Homo sapiens: one gene and its partner. The protein of the gene in region 1 purifies or fractionates together with the protein of each later gene. This does not show direct contact. Each region holds a gene or a part of one and is shown in the gene's direction. Other genes may lie near its edges.

What was found. Proteins that work in one complex are often made in the same cells at the same time.
Region 2: the proteins of GPR17 (region 1) and IPO13 purify together in Homo sapiens (co-immunoprecipitation; 2 studies listed by BioGRID and IntAct, with this or other methods). This does not show direct contact.

What each region holds. Positions count from the first base shown.
Region 1 is NC_000002.12:127,644,373-127,648,119, forward strand, and holds the start of GPR17 (uracil nucleotide/cysteinyl leukotriene receptor), read left to right. Parts: upstream 1-1,780; 5' UTR 1,781-1,872; intron 1,873-3,274; coding exon of another isoform or gene 3,275-3,372; exon of another isoform or gene 3,373-3,467; intron 3,468-3,664; exon of another isoform or gene 3,665-3,747. UniProt on the Homo sapiens protein: Dual specificity receptor for uracil nucleotides and cysteinyl leukotrienes (CysLTs). Signals through G(i) and inhibition of adenylyl cyclase. May mediate brain damage by nucleotides and CysLTs following ischemia.
Region 2 is NC_000001.11:43,949,851-43,953,597, forward strand, and holds part of IPO13 (importin-13), read left to right. Parts: coding exon 1-303; intron 304-3,612; exon of another isoform or gene 3,613-3,633; intron 3,634-3,747. UniProt on the Homo sapiens protein: Functions in nuclear protein import as nuclear transport receptor. Serves as receptor for nuclear localization signals (NLS) in cargo substrates.

The sequences.
Region 1 (3,747 bases):
GACGGGAAGCAGTTGTGGCCTGTGGCTTCAGTCTTCATCACCACAATCCCTGAAGCCCACCCTTGCCCAGACACCTGTGCCCCAGCCCCAACCCCAGGCCACCTCCTCAGCAGGTCTGGGGCTGAGCTGCCCCACCTGGCGCCTATGGCGGCCAGCCCATGCCCCCTGCGGTGCCTCTGTCCCAGACTCAGCATGTAGGCCCCATGACCCCACTCCACATTCTGGTGACTCCTCCTGAGCGTCAGGACAACACTCAACCCACGAGGAATTATTTCTGTCTCAAAGATGCAGGAATCAGCTCAACGCCTCAAAACTCCATCACCACGGTCAATGCCCTTGAAGCCATCGACAGTGATCACCCCAATAACAGAAGGTCTGTGAGCCCAGAAATGCCCTGCTCAGGGTGGTTAGCTTCAAGCCACCACCTTTCCAACCAGCCTGGGCCAGTTCTTCCAGACAGCCGCCTGCGGGCACAACAGGAAAGAGACCTGCGCCCCGGCTCAGACACCTCACACCCAGCTGGCTCTCAGGCCAGACAAACTGGGAAGCCCATCTCTCTTGAAGGAAGTCCAGATGGGAAACAGCTTCTCAACAGACCAGATCACAGCATCAGATCTAAAGGTGGCCTTCAGAATTCTTTTTCAGGTTGAATTAGGATCAAATCTAAGAATTCTAAATTCAAAATGCAGCAGAAAAACAAAACACACACACACACGGAGCCTAAGTTCTGGAGTGACATGTGCTTGGGTTCAAATCCTGGCTCTGTTGCTTCCTACTGTTTGTTGATGGGTGAGTTTCTTCATTTGCCTGAGCCTCAGTTTCCTTGTCTGTAAAATGGGGCAATAATCCCAGCTGCACAGGGTGATGTGAAGAGACAAATTTAAGACACTGCCCCTTAAATGCTAGCCACATACATACAGTTTTCAATGTTTAAACAACAAAATGTAAAGTCTTTTGAAACCAGGAAGGGTGATTTGGTTTCCCATGTTGCTGGATGTATCATTTTCAGAAAGACAGAGAGAAATGAACTTTGTTCACTCAGTCTCAGAGGCGGCCGCCGGCAGCATTCAAAGGCACCCCAGCCCGGAGCCACCCCAGGGAGGAGCCCCAGGCCAGCGGTCAGATTCATGGGCTTCCGTGCAGAAGGGGAGCTGCACCGGCGAGCACCCGGCCTCTGAGCTGAGCCGCATCCTCACGGACAGGACAGCGCCCCATTATGAGGCTCCTGCAGCTGTTCCTCGCTCCAGATAAAGGCCATGATTTATTCTGTGTGCCCAAATGGGGCCTCATTATACAGGGCAGGACACAAGGACCCTACAGCAAGTGTCCTCAAAGAGTCGCCTCTCACTCCGTGAGCAAGACTCCTCGGCCTCCCACCCTCCGTTCACAGGCCCCCTCCGCCGTCTGCGGGCGCAGGCCTGGGAGCGCCGCCTGTTGCCATGACAGCCGGCCCCTCCCTGCCCCCCATCAGTAGGAAATCATCCCCTTCTGAAACGTCCTGTTGTGTCCCTCAGCTCCAGCCCAAGCCCCCCACCCAGCCCCCGCCTGCTCTGAGTCTCTGAGACAGTCACACACTCAGACTATGTGGCCAAGCTGGGGGCGGGGGGCATGGGCTAGGGACACACTAGAATATTCACGCTCCGGTGGCAGCAGCAGCAGCAGCCAGAGGAGCAGCCCGACACAACAAGGGACCCCTCAGGAATGAAGCAGCCTTTCAGGGCCAGAGGGGCTGTGGTCTCCCTTCCTCTCCTTAAATAGCCAGCGTTCCACCCACAGCGGCAAGGAGCCCCCTGCCACCACCGACACCCACGGGCGGAGATCACCTGCTGCCCCGCAGACCCCTGTCCCTTCCTCCCGGACCAGCAGCTAGAGGTAAGGGGCAGGCTGGGTGGGGTGGACTGGGAGCCCAGGGCTAAGCAGAGGAAACACTCAGCGGGGAGCCCTGCCCAGGGAGACAGGCAGCAGCCTGTCTCGTCCCATCTCTTTGGTGATGGTCTGACCTGTGCATCGAAGGCTGACCACAGTCTGAATTCACAGCAGCCCACAAAGCGGTGTTTCGTCCCTCTGATGGGGGCTTGCAGAGGGGAAGTGGCTTGCCGGCAGTCCAGGCTGCAATGACAGCACCGCTGCCCCTAACCATTAGGCAGCCTTGACCCATAGAGGAGCCAGATGCCTGGGAGAGGGCTCGGGCCAGGGATGGAGTGGCGCTAATGCAAAGGAAACTGCCACCACCTGGCCATGGCGCTGCCACCACAGGCCCTCCCCGAGGCCACACATGCCCACCTGCCACCTCCACAGAGGCCTATGACCTGTCCTAGATGCTCGACTCACCCACAGCCACGGGACCCAACACTGCCCAGGCCCCGGCCCATGCCACGCCCTTTCCTCTTACGGACACCGGCTCGGTGGCCGTCTGACCAGTGAGTCGTGAGGAACCAGCGAGTCTAGACTGAAGTTTGTGTTTCTAAAGGGCAACAGAGAGTGAAGCGGGGCCCATCTCAGACCAAACTGCAACAATCAGTATCAGAACTCCTCAAACGGGGGACAGAAAGGGAGAAGAAACCTCAGCAAACCTGAAACCAACCAGAAAGCTGTTTAAAATGGAGTCTCAGTCCCAGAGAGAGCGAGGGGCACGCCCTTCGGCCCGGGCAGGAAGTGGAGGGCAGTGCCCAGGCTGAGGCCCCCGGGCTGGAGGCAGGAGGCACCACAGGCCCACCTGGTGCCATGAGATATGCCACCCCTGCCGTCACTCAGGGCCCTGAGCCCAGTAACACTCTGCCGTCACTGTCCTGAAACTCTTCCTTTTTGAGCAAGGGGCTGCACATTCTCATTTCATACATGGGCCCCTAAAATGAGGGAGTGGCCCCAGGGCCAGGAGGGGGTGCTGAGCCTGGGAGACAACTCCATGGCAAACTCTGAGACTGAGTCACACTCCCCACCCTGGCGGTCTTCCAGGGAGTGAGACCGTTTCCCCGGTCTCACTTCCAGCTCCAGGGCCAATGTCCCCTGGTCAAGTGACCTAAGACAAGTTAGCAGACACTCAGCCTTGACTCCCTAACCTGCAACATGGGGCTAAAACTGGTTTGAGCCAGCACAGGCAGGCCCCCACCATGCCAGGCAGAGTGGTCAGTCGTACCTATGAGCTGCTCTCTCGTGGGGCCAGGTGATGCCTGCACTGTGGGGCACAGCACAGGCCTGAGGGACAGCCTGGGGTGGAGGGCACCCACCTTGGCCCCTTCCCACCCCCAGGTTCTAACAAGGGCCCCTCACTCACTGGGCCCCCTCTCCTCTTCCAGTCTCCAGGGCCTCCCCGCACACACCTTCCTCCTCTCCTGCCAACCTGAAAACAGCACACCTGTGTGCCCCTCCCATCTACCATGGGCTGTCCTCTCTGCTTGCCCATGCGTCTGCCCTGGAGCCCTGTTCCTCCAGTCTCCGGGTCCTCACCCCCAGCACATGCAACACGACACCCTCAAAGTCATGGGCCCCCCTCCCCTGCCACCGTCCCACCGGTACCTGCTCCCTGTTCTCCCCTGCCTCACAGGCCCTGTCAAGGGCTGTGTTCCTCCCTCCTTTTACCTCTCCTCCACAGCCCCCTTCACAGCCCTCAGCCCTTCCCCAGGGCTTCAGCCAAGCCTGTCTCCCTCTCCCAAGCATCACTCACCCCGCCTTCTTCGGCCCTCAGCTCTCCGCCCTCACCGTGGTTTTAGCAGTCCTAGGGAAAGTGCCAGCCGAGACCAGCCAGAC
Region 2 (3,747 bases), on another chromosome or scaffold:
GCCTGAGGAGTTCCAGACCAGTCGCCTACCCCAGTACCGCAAAGGCCTGGTGCGGACCAGCCTGGCGGTGGAATGTGGGGCTGTCTTCCCGCTGCTGGAGCAGCTGCTACAGCAGCCCAGCTCACCCAGCTGTGTGCGTCAGAAGGTGCTCAAGTGTTTCTCCAGCTGGGTGCAGCTGGAGGTGCCGCTGCAGGACTGTGAGGCGCTCATTCAGGCTGCCTTTGCTGCTCTGCAGGACTCGGAGCTCTTCGACAGCAGTGTGGAGGCCATTGTGAATGCCATCTCACAGCCTGATGCCCAGAGGTGAGCTAGTACCCACTCACCCAGAAGACAACCTCTTTGGCCAGCCACACATCCATCCATCCATCTGTTCAATAAACATTAATTGAATGTGTACTGATACCTGGTCCTATGCTGGAGATACAGCAAGGAACCAAAGAAGACATGGTCCCTGTCCTCATGGTTCAGACAGGGAGGCAGACATTAAACAACTAATTATCAGTTATTCAATTAAAATATTTGACTCTCTTTTCCTTCTCTCAACTAGTCACCAAGTCCTGGCTGTTCCCCTCCTGACCATATTGCAAATCTATTTTTTTCCATTTCCATTGCTACCACCTTAGTCCAAGCTGTCATCATCTCTCTCCCCAGATTACTGTAGAGCTTGTCCTCACTCTTGTACCCTTCATTGTCCCAGCAGCCACAGTGATCTTTTGAAAATGGGGATCTAATCTTTCTGATCAGAAGCTTTCAGTGGCTTCTCAATGCTCTTAGGTTAAAGCTCAGAATCCTTAATGTGACTCATAATGGTGCTGCACAGTATGGCATCACTGGCCTCATCTCATGCTACTCTCCTTGCTCTCTACACGCTCACACAGTTTCTTTAATTCCTTGAATGTCCCATGTTCCTTTCAGCCTCTGGCTCATTACATATACTTGACACCTTGCCTCAGCTTAAACTTCATTTCCATAGGGAAGTCCTCCATGGATTCTTAAGGCTAAGTTTGATCTTCTCTCTTATATTACCTCAGAGCTCCCAGTATTTTTCCTTCTTAGCCCATAACATGATTTCTCTCACCTCTGTGAGGACAGGGACTCTGTCATTTTACTTTGTCGCATTGTGCTCGGCACATGGTAGCATTTGATATTTTGTGAATGGAGGAAAGTAGGAGTTGCCTGAGTTGGGAGGGGTGGGGCTGGAAGGGATTGGGGGAGGAAGGTGGATTGTTCTAGGCTTTAGGAACCACAGCATGTGCAAAGACTTGTGGGCAGCATCATGATATATTCAAGGGCCCTAAAGAAGTGAGTGTAGTGAAGTGTTTGGCAAATGTTCATTGAGCATGTCCTGTTTTGGGCCCTGTGCTGAGCTCTGGGAGCACAGAGACAAATGCTTTAGCTTCAGTCTCAGGAGCTCACAGTCTAGTGGACACATGAGTGGCAAGTACAATCAACATGATGAATCCTCTGATGGAGAACGCAGGGGCCTTGAAGAACCCAGAGGAGGCTTTCACTGAGTCTGAGGGCTGTGAAAGGATTCGCAGAGGAAGTGACAACCCAGCTGTGTAAGAGTTAGCCAGATGGAAGTGATGGATGGGGAGGACATTCCAGCCCAAGCAAGGGAAGGGTGAAAGCCCAGAGGGTCTGGTGATCTGTAAATCATTAGATGTGATTAGACAGCAAGATTTAAGGGCCAGAGGTATAGGAGACCTGGGCCCAGATCATGCAGGACCTTGGCCAAGTTTAAGATTTTGATCTTCATCCTGAAGACGATATAAAGATATTAAAGGATTATAAGCAGAGAAAATGGCCTACTGAGACTTTTGGTATGAGCTGGATTAGAAGAAGTGAGACTGGAGGTCCTGATGCTGACATTTCAGAGATGGGGCTTTGGGACCTTTGGCAGAATTGGAAGGGAAAACCATTGAAAGAGACTTCATGGAAGAGTGGCTGATGACTCAAGCCTTGGCATTAGTCACATCTAAGTTTGAATCCCAGATGGTTCACTTATTAGATCTGAAATCTTGGATCAGCCATTCCTAAGGCTCCGTTTCCTCATCAATAAAATGGGGATGATCATATCAACCCCACAGAGTTGAAAAGGTTTAAACAGGATAATGTGCACAAGTCCTGCCCCTGGTGTTCGGTAGAGAATATTTTGACTCCTTGAGTAATGGGAGTTCTTTTGTGGTCTCTGCTAGGGTTGGGATGGTCAGTAGCATGCATTTGTACCTTTGGGTTATTGATACGTTACATGTTTTAAAATGGGAACTGTGTGTATATGTTCTACCTTTATACTTTATGTGATCAGTTAATGGTAATTGTTTATTTATTTATTTTGAGACAGAGTCTCACTCTGTCACCCAGGCTGGTGTGCAGTGGCACAATCTCGGCTCACTGCAACCTCCGCCTCCCGGGTTCAAGCGATTCTCTTGCCTCAGCCTCCAGAATAGCTGGGATTACAGGCGTGCATCACCACGCCCAGCTAATTTTTGTATTTTTAGTAGAAACGGGGTTTTGCCATGTTGGTCAGGCTGGTCTTGAACTCCTAACCTCAGGTGATCCATCTGCCTCCGCCTCCCAAAGTGCTGGGATTACAGGTATGAGCCACCATGCCTGGCCAACTGTTCATTTTTTTAAAGAGAAACATAGTTACTATTAAATGGATTAAGGCTGTTTACTTTTAGTACTGGTCATAAGAAGTAGAACTGGAATCATGCAATAGAAAGTGGGCCTAGTTGTTCAGTGGCTAAATTTGAAAAGGAGTTGGTTTCCTATATATATATGTGTGTGTATACATACATATATTTATATGTATATGATACACACACACACATAGATAATGTGCTTAATCACTGCCTTTTGAAACTTTAAATAAAATATTGGGTTGATTTTAAAAAATAAAAGATTGTTTCGGTATGAGGATTAAATAAGAGAATGTGAAGCTTTTAGCATGGTTCCTATATACTCTGTAAACGGCAGTTGCCAGTATTTGGTTTCATTATTGTGTTGGGAGTTATTATGATACTTATCCCCTGGCTTCCCAGGCTTTCCAGCTTAAGGTGGATACCTAATCCCAGATCTCTTGGCAGCCTGAAGCTCAAGTGCTGGGTGGGCTCTGACAGTTGGTGACTAAGGGAAACAGATCAGGGCAAGTGTGTGGGTGATGTGAGGTGTCCTTGGATACACCCAAGTTTACCCGCCCAGCCAGTCTCAAGGGCTTTGGCAGGTAATTGATGCCCCTTCTCCTCTGAACGAATGAGCGAGCAAGGAGCCAGTGAGGTAACCCACAGCCTCCTTGGTGCCCATTGGCTGCAGCCCCTTGGTTGCTTAGCAACTCTCCCCATTTTCTCAGCTCTGCTCCTGAAGCAAAGCTCTAATTGCAGGTCTGGGCTGAGCTCCGTGTGAGCAGCAGCAGAGGAGTCCCAGCAGCCCTGCCTCGGCTACTTGAACTGACCGATTGGAGCCAGGCCTCTTGAACCCAGCCTCAGCTGTGGTCATAAAGACATCCTCCCTGTCTCCTTCCCCCAAACCTAGAAACCTCTGGGACCTCAGACTTGTTCTTCTGTCCACTCACAGGTCGCAGACACAGGTGCTCAGGTGGTAGGAAATTTATGCAAGAACTTCTTCCCATGGGTGAGCTGCATCCAGCCCAGAATCCGAGCCTGGCCCTTGCTCTCCCCAGTCTAATTTCCCAGCTTTGGCTTGTGAAAGTCACCTTCAGTGACTTTGACTCCTGGGTCATCCAGG